Homo sapiens: one gene and its partner. The protein of the gene in region 2 purifies or fractionates together with the protein of the main gene of each other region. This does not show direct contact. Each region holds a gene or a part of one and is shown on either strand. Other genes may lie near its edges.

Evidence for each region.
Region 1: the proteins of P3H2 (region 2) and EMID1 purify together in Homo sapiens (co-immunoprecipitation; one large-scale study listed by IntAct). This does not show direct contact.

What each region holds. Positions count from the first base shown.
Region 1 is NC_000022.11:29,212,396-29,215,895, reverse strand, and holds part of EMID1 (EMI domain-containing protein 1 isoform 1 precursor), read right to left. Parts: intron 971-3,500; coding exon 857-970; intron 370-856; coding exon 266-369; intron 1-265.
Region 2 is NC_000003.12:190,110,656-190,114,676, forward strand, and holds part of P3H2 (prolyl 3-hydroxylase 2 isoform a precursor), read right to left. Parts: intron 1-4,021. UniProt on the Homo sapiens protein: Prolyl 3-hydroxylase that catalyzes the post-translational formation of 3-hydroxyproline on collagens. Contributes to proline 3-hydroxylation of collagen COL4A1 and COL1A1 in tendons, the eye sclera and in the eye lens capsule.

The DNA of each region.
Region 1 (3,500 bases), on a different chromosome or scaffold from region 2:
AGGATAGCATGACTTAAAATGTGAGCTATGCAGCATATATAAAATTCTTCTGGGGGTCCTGAGAGTCTCCCAAGAGGCAAGCGGTCACCGTGGGGGGCAGGGGGGACAACAAGCACTGACTGTGTCTGAGCCAGGCTCTGTGCAGCTGGCCCCAGCAGGCATGGTACTGTGCATGACTCTCTTAATAGTTCACGGCTCCATGCACCTGCAGGGAGGCACCTGGCCTGCTGTCGCAGGGCTCCGGGAGCCGGCCGGGCAGTCCTACCTTCCTCGCAGCTCACTCCTGAGTGCCCAGGGCAGCACCTCCACTCACGGGCGGTCACTATCTTGTACATCACCTTGTATGTGGGTCTCACCACAGTTCTGTAGCTGAAAGAGTCCCCAGGTGGCCCAGCTGAGACAGGGTCCTCCATGACCTCTCCCACTGCCCTGGACACCCATGGGGACAAACCTAGAGCTTCCAGGATCCTCTGCTGCCTCCAGGTCCCTTTGGAGGCTCTCTCCTGCATTTTGGGATTCAGCCCTTCCATCCCCCCACCACCTTGCCACAGGGATTGGAGATTGGATACCAGCTGGACAAGAAGACCCTGCAGGCTGGGCTGGCCTGAGCCCAGCGTGAATACTCACTGAGTAAAGGAATGCAGGCAAATGGTGTATCCATCCCTCAGGAAGCCCTCCAGGGTGCTTCAACAGCACAGGGGATAGGCTGAGAATGGTGTCGGCTGATGCTACCTTTGCTCCGCCCACCCTGGGGTCCAGTCTTCCCCCACACTCCCCATGCAGTCCCCCAACCAGGCCTTTGCCCAAACTGTGCCTCCACCTGGAATGCCATCAGTTCCTTCTCCACCTCATTTACCTGCTCCCCGGACAGCTCATGGGCCAGGGGCAGTTCTGCAGCACTCGCTGAAGGTAGGTGCCATTCTGCACATGGCATGAGATGGTGCGGGTCACCACATAGGAGCACCAGTTCCTGAAACAGACCCAAAGAGAGGAAACTCAGGTACCACACAGGGTCCCCTGCTGGGGACTCCAGGAGGATGGGTGAGGACGTCCGTGTTCTCTTCAAGAGCCCTGAATCCCCAGGCAGCGAGAAGCCCTGAGCTTGCAAAGTCATTTGGGCCCAAATGGCTGGGGGGAGTCCCTGTGGCTGAGGGGTGAATGTCATGGCCCTAGGGGTGGGGCTGTGCAGAGAGTTCTCAGTAGGTCTTGAGGAATGAATGGCAGGGGAAAGATGGAAGCGGGCCATCTTCCCCTGAGCTCTCGCTCCCCAACTTCTCTCCTCTCCAACTTTGACCCATCCAGGCCATCATCACTGCCTGGCTCTTGCCTGGACAACTACAGTGAGTGGCCTCTCCATCTGCCCCTCGGTCCCTCCCTAGAGGCAGTGTCACAGAATGGAAACCTGCCTACATCCTTGCCTTGCCTACCCAACTCCCCAACCCTCAGGATCTCCTGTACCCACACCTGCCCCAGGCCTTTGCTGGTGCTGGGCCCTCTGCCTGGAGTACCCTTCCTCCGCTTCTCCCCATGGCGCCTCCTACCTTCAAAGCCCAGATGTGACATGGCCTATTCCCTCCATCCTTTCCCATCTCCACCCTGACCCGAGCAGTTCTGATGGTGCCCTGCCCTGGCTCCCGCAGCATCTGCACACCTGTCACGCTGAATTAAGCTGCCAATTTGTGCCTGCCCCCTCCGCCAGCATGCAAGAGGAGAGGCCCTGTCTCACCCATTCCCATGTCCCCTCCGTGGAATGGCTGGGATGTGTAATCAATGCCCCAAGCCCAGAGGACTGAGTTCTCCAAACACCAACTAATAATCGGAGTGCACTGCACATATTGAGCACTTATTATATGCTAAAGGTATTTACACTATCCTCTGATGGTGAGGAAGGTACCCCCACCCTGTTTTTACAGAGGGGAAACTGAGGCTTGGGGAGGTGAAGACAACTGCTTATGTCACAGCTGGTGCGTGGAGAAGCCAGATTTGAACCCAGCAAGGTGGATGGCCTAGCCCAGCCTCTGACGCCATCCCAGAGCCTCAGCTCCCGTCTTCTCCTCATCTCCTTGAGCCACGGTCTGTGGCTCTGTAAACGCCCCGGCCTGGGAACCTGCTGACCCCAGGCTTGAGGGCAGGAAGAAAGTCTGGGAGGGGTGGGGGACCCAGGCTGAGAAGGGTCACCTGAAACCATCCCTCCTTCCCCAACCCCTGCAAAAAGCACAGGGCCCGTGACCCTGTGCAGGGCTGAGGGCTGCTGAGCACCTGGAATGTCCCGGCCTTCACAGAGACTCCCATGCCGACCACAGTGCAGCCCCCACTCGCTGCAGCCCTGCCCCCACCCCAGACCACCAGAAGGAGAAACTCCTGGGCCAGGACCAGGCAACTAACTCAATTTAGGGCCCTGTGGAATTCCCTTCATCTTTCTGTGCCACACCAGAATCAGTGCTGGAAGAGGAAACAACCTAGGTACAGCCCTGGAGGTGGGAAGGCTGGGAGAAGGGATGGTTCAGTTTGGCCCATGAAGCAGGAGAAGCTCAACAGAGCCTTCAGCCAGCCATCCCATGCAGAGGTGACAGGTGCCTGCCATGGCACCATCAGAAATGGCACAAAACTGGGAACAGCCTAAACAGCTATGGAGCCACCGGACATGGGAAACCAGATGCTGTGACAAAGCCCGAGGTCTCTGCGTGCTGACCTGAGACCCAGCTATCACACCTAGTTACGGGGAGGAAAAAAGCAGACAAAGACCAATGGATATACAGTGATTGCATTTCTATTACATTAAGAGAGAGACAGAACGTCAACTATTTCTATATGCGTGCACATGTACAGATATGTGCATATAAAGTGAGAAAAAAATGACACTTTTCTCAAACTGCCATGTCTGGGAGCAAGGAGGGCTTTCCATCTGCTCCGTCTACTACACGAACAGTAGCTATGTTTATCATGCTTGCTGCACGCCAGGAGCTGTGCCCAGAGCCGTCCACGTGTTCGCTCAGTTAAATTCTCACACTCTTATTAAAAAGCCACTTCAGGCTGGGCACAGTGGCTCATGCCTGTAATCCCACCACTTTGGCAGGCCGAGATGGGTGGATCACGTGAGGTCAGGAGTTCGAGACCAGCCTGGGCAACATGGAGAAACCCTGTCTCTACTAAAAATACAAAAAATTAGCCGGGTGTGATGGTGGGAGCCTGTAATCCCAGCTACTCAGGAGGCTGAGGCAGGAGAATTGCTTGAATCTGGGAGGCGGAGGTGGCAGTGAGCTGAGATCGCACCATTGCATTCCAGCCTGGGCAACAGAGTGAGACTCCGTATCAAAAAAAAAAAAGCCACATTACAGATGGGAAGACTGAGACTCTGGGGTCCAGGACGTGCCCCAGGCACCCATGATAGGCGGCACAGTCAGGGTTGGAACTCAAGTCCCTCTGGCTCCAGAGCTTGCACTCTCAACCCTAGGCTAGAAATGTTTCTCCTAATGAGTAGGTGAAGATTTCAGCCCTTT
Region 2 (4,021 bases):
GCTCATTTTTAAAAAACAGCCAAATCTGGTTTTAAGGTAATTCTCTATGCCCAGAGTCTTAATTATGTGTCAATTTCTCTGTGCAAATCTATTGATTTTGGCAGACTTACAAATTTAGCATTCAAGCAAGAAGAATATGTCAAAATTGGCTCAAATTTCCTGTGCTTCCAGATTTGTTAGAAGTTTCTTTGTTTTGTAATCATTTATTTTATTACATATTTTGCTTTTATCCATTCCTTTCCAGGGTCCCAGTACAATTAAACTGCAATCCCCAGAAGTTTCCTGTTATGTGCTCAAAAACTGAATCTAATATTTGTAGATAATGAATTCCAGCAGGATCATTCTGATAGCCCTGCACTTCTAGAAATTCTGACGTTTTGGATCTCCCTCTTTCTGGCTCCTATTCTTCTACTTCCCTTCCAAAGAAGATCCTTTGCCTCACTCATTTTCATTAAGCTAACTGGGAAACAGCATTGACTCAGGTTCTTATTTCTGAGTTTTCCCCAGAAGTAGGAAGAACAGTAGTGCAAGGAATAACATTGCATAAGAAGATTGCAGCTTTTATTTCAGGGTCTCTTTCATTTGGCATATAATGCAAGTGGCATGCTGTGTGTTTCATTTTAACTTCGTTAAGCTTGTGTTTTCACCGGGGCCTTACAAATAGTGGTCAACGGCCATTTCACAGAATGGAAGTCAGGGTTCTTGGATTCTAACCCTGGTCCTTCTCTTACAGTGCTGTAAAATTTGGGCCACTCAATTCTCTTTTGGCCTTTATTTTCCATCTGTAAAATGGGATGCCTGGAATACTAGTGTTCCATTAATGTGGCAGGGTGCAGCTGCAGAAAGATAGGGTGGTAAAGGGTGGGGAGAAAGAATGCCTTTTTTAAAAAAAATCAGTCAAAGGGGCTCTATTTTAATATACTATATATAGAAATGACACTGTAGCTTTCATCTGTGTATCAAAACCCCAATCTGGAAACTAGCATTGGCCCCTCTAGAATAAAAGATTTTAAACATCACTTCCTCCATGAAACCAGTTTCTGGTCTTCCTATTCCCCACTTGAATGTGACTCTTTCTTTCTTATGAGGTTTCAAAGACACAGAAAATTTTGTACAGAATCCCATGCATCTAATTTACCTGATGCATGGATTCTTGCCATAAACAATATTCTTGACAGCCTCAATGTCACAATCACAGACCTGAAGGAACCTAAATAATTAAGCTGATCCAGCCACTTCTATTCACAGGAATTCATGGAAGATGCTCAGAGAGAGAAAAGTAAAACTTGCTGAAATCGTTAATGTCCCTAGGGTTAAGTCACTTTATCATTAATGGAATAATGGGGAGTGCGATAAAAATAATCCTATAACTGGTATTATGGTTGACAATTTTCCCCATGGGTCTTGTGTTATAATTATGCGCCATTTGAAATCCTCTATATTAGATGTGAGCTCATTGATGGGAGGAACCCTGTTCTAGTGTGGATCTTACAACTAGTGGTCAATGGCAATGTCATAGGACTTGGAGGGAGTCTAGGTTCCTGGATTCTAATCCTGGATCTTCCATTTGATTGCATTTACTTTGATCAACTCGATTCTCTTTTGAGCTTTATTTTCCCATCCATAAAATGCAATGGTTGCAGTACTAATGTTTCATTAATGTGGCAGACGGGCAGTGGCAGAAAGATAGAGAGCTGGTGGGGAACATCTTCCTCTAACCCATACCCAGGTCTTGCACAACACACATGAGGGTAAGTGACATAAAAACAGTATCAAAAAGTAGATATCTATGACGGTTTATCAGATTAAATGAAAGGCTCAATGGCTTTTATTTTAATACAGCTAGAAACCTGACCTTAGGTCTACCAATATTTTCTCTTTCCCCATTTTCCCCTCTGCTCTCTTCTTTTCAGATGTACTTTCATTGTGTAGACTACTAACAGGACAATGCAGGGGTAGGGCCAAGGAAAAACAGAGAAATAACTAGAGGAAACGATATAGTACAGTAGAGCAGAAAGGAGTGTGGTCAAGAGAAATAGCTTCTTTCAACAACAGTCTGCAGTCCTCTTCAGTACTAAAACCAGCAAAACACACATACAACACTAGGAACGCCACTCAGAAGGCTGACACCAAATTTTTTTTTTAGAGATATGTGTAGGCCATTTGGCAAATGATGACAAGGTCTGGTGGAAAATACTCGGCTAGAAAATCAGACAGCAGGAAAGGAGGGATGAATAAAAAGACAGAAAAAGAATTATAGAAGAAAGATGAATGGAAAAAAAAAAGACAGGAGGAATTATTTTTCCTAATGAGAAATGCAACATTTTCCACCAGACAACTGTGACTCTTGGCTGAATAACTTATGTATCATGTGAATGAAAGTGCAGGGTGGAGGGGGCAGTCCAGGAAGATGTGTCTTATGTCCACTTTGTCTCTGAAGGCAATGGGTTTACTGCAGGTCTCAAGTGCACCACTGATTCACTAGACCACCCCTCAAGGAGGTAGCCATGACTGTTACATAGAGGCTGGAAAGAGTAGGAGACTGGAAGTGAGAAAACCTATTCTGGGCCAAGCTCCATTTGCTTTCCCTTCTTGATTTGTTGTAGAATCTGTGAGGCCAGTGTCATCATCTGTTAAGTGACAGGGATAGATTTTTTCATGATCTTTGAGGGCTCTTTCAAGCTATAGCATTTTTATAATTTTAATAACTACCACTTCCACCCTTGTTAGATTACATTTCTTGAACAAAATAATTACCCTTTCCTCCCTTGCTTTTACGTCACTGCCCCAAAGCAGTTAGTTGACTTGAAGGTGTTCTTTTGGAGTCTCTTCCAGCTATAAAATCTGTGACTCTAAGAAATCCACAGTTTACTTAATTCCTTAGCAATACAAAAGAATAGTCATTATATCAAATCCAGCAAGTCTTCATTTAGGTGAACCTATCCACCTTTCAAAATGTATCAAGTCTCGCCTATGAGGAAGTTGACATTTTATCAAGCATTTCCAAGAGAATTTCACAGCTACCCCTTTGGAGTTTATCAATGAGCAGATGATATTAGTAACAGAATCCATTTGATTCTGAGAGACGAGGTCTATGAAGAAAGGGAGGCAGCAGTTTATTAATTTCCATTGTTAAAGGAGGCCGGGCGCAGTGGCTCGCGCCTGTAATCCCAGCACTTTGGGAGGCCGAGGCGGGCGGATCACGAGGTCGGGAGTTCGAGACCATCCTGGCTAACACGGTGAAACCCCGTCTCTACTAAAAATACAAAAAGAAATTAGCCGGGCGTGGAGGCGGGCGCCTGTAGTCCCAGCTACTCGGGAGGCTGAGGCAGGAGAATGGCGTGAACCCGGGAGGCGGAGCTTGCAGTGAGCCGAGATGTCGCCACCACACTCCAGCCTGGGCGACAGAGTGAGACTCCGTCTCAAAAAAAAAAAAAAAAAAATGGCCAGGAAGGAATCCCTGATTAACCAAGCTGACTAACCATGGGAGAATACTTGCAAGCAATTGCTGCCCTCATCTAATTATTATTATTATTTTTTTTTTTTGAGGCGGAGTCTTGCTCTGTCGCCCAGGCTGGAGTGCGGTGGCGCCATCTCGGCTCACTGCAAGCTCCGCCTCCCGGGTTCACGCCATTCTCCTGCCTCAGCCTCCCGAGTAGCTGGGACTACAGGCGCCTGCCACCACGCCCGCCTAATTTCTTTTTGTATTTTTAGTAGAGACGGGGTTTCACCGTGTTAGCCAGGATGGTCTCGATCTCCTGACCTCGTGATACGCCCACCTCGGCCTCCCAAAGTGCTGGGATTACAGGCTTGAACCACCATGCCCAGCCTCATCTAATTAAATTTTAAGCCTCTGTGGCACTTATCACTTATACGGGCAATAGATGACTGGTAAGGAGCTGACCAGGCTTTCAGATATGGGACAATCCCAAGGAGGAACAATTGTGATTCTAATTCCTTAGCACACGGGACCTAAAATCTAGCTAGATGAACAATCTCTCAGGTTTTCTTCCTAAGGAGT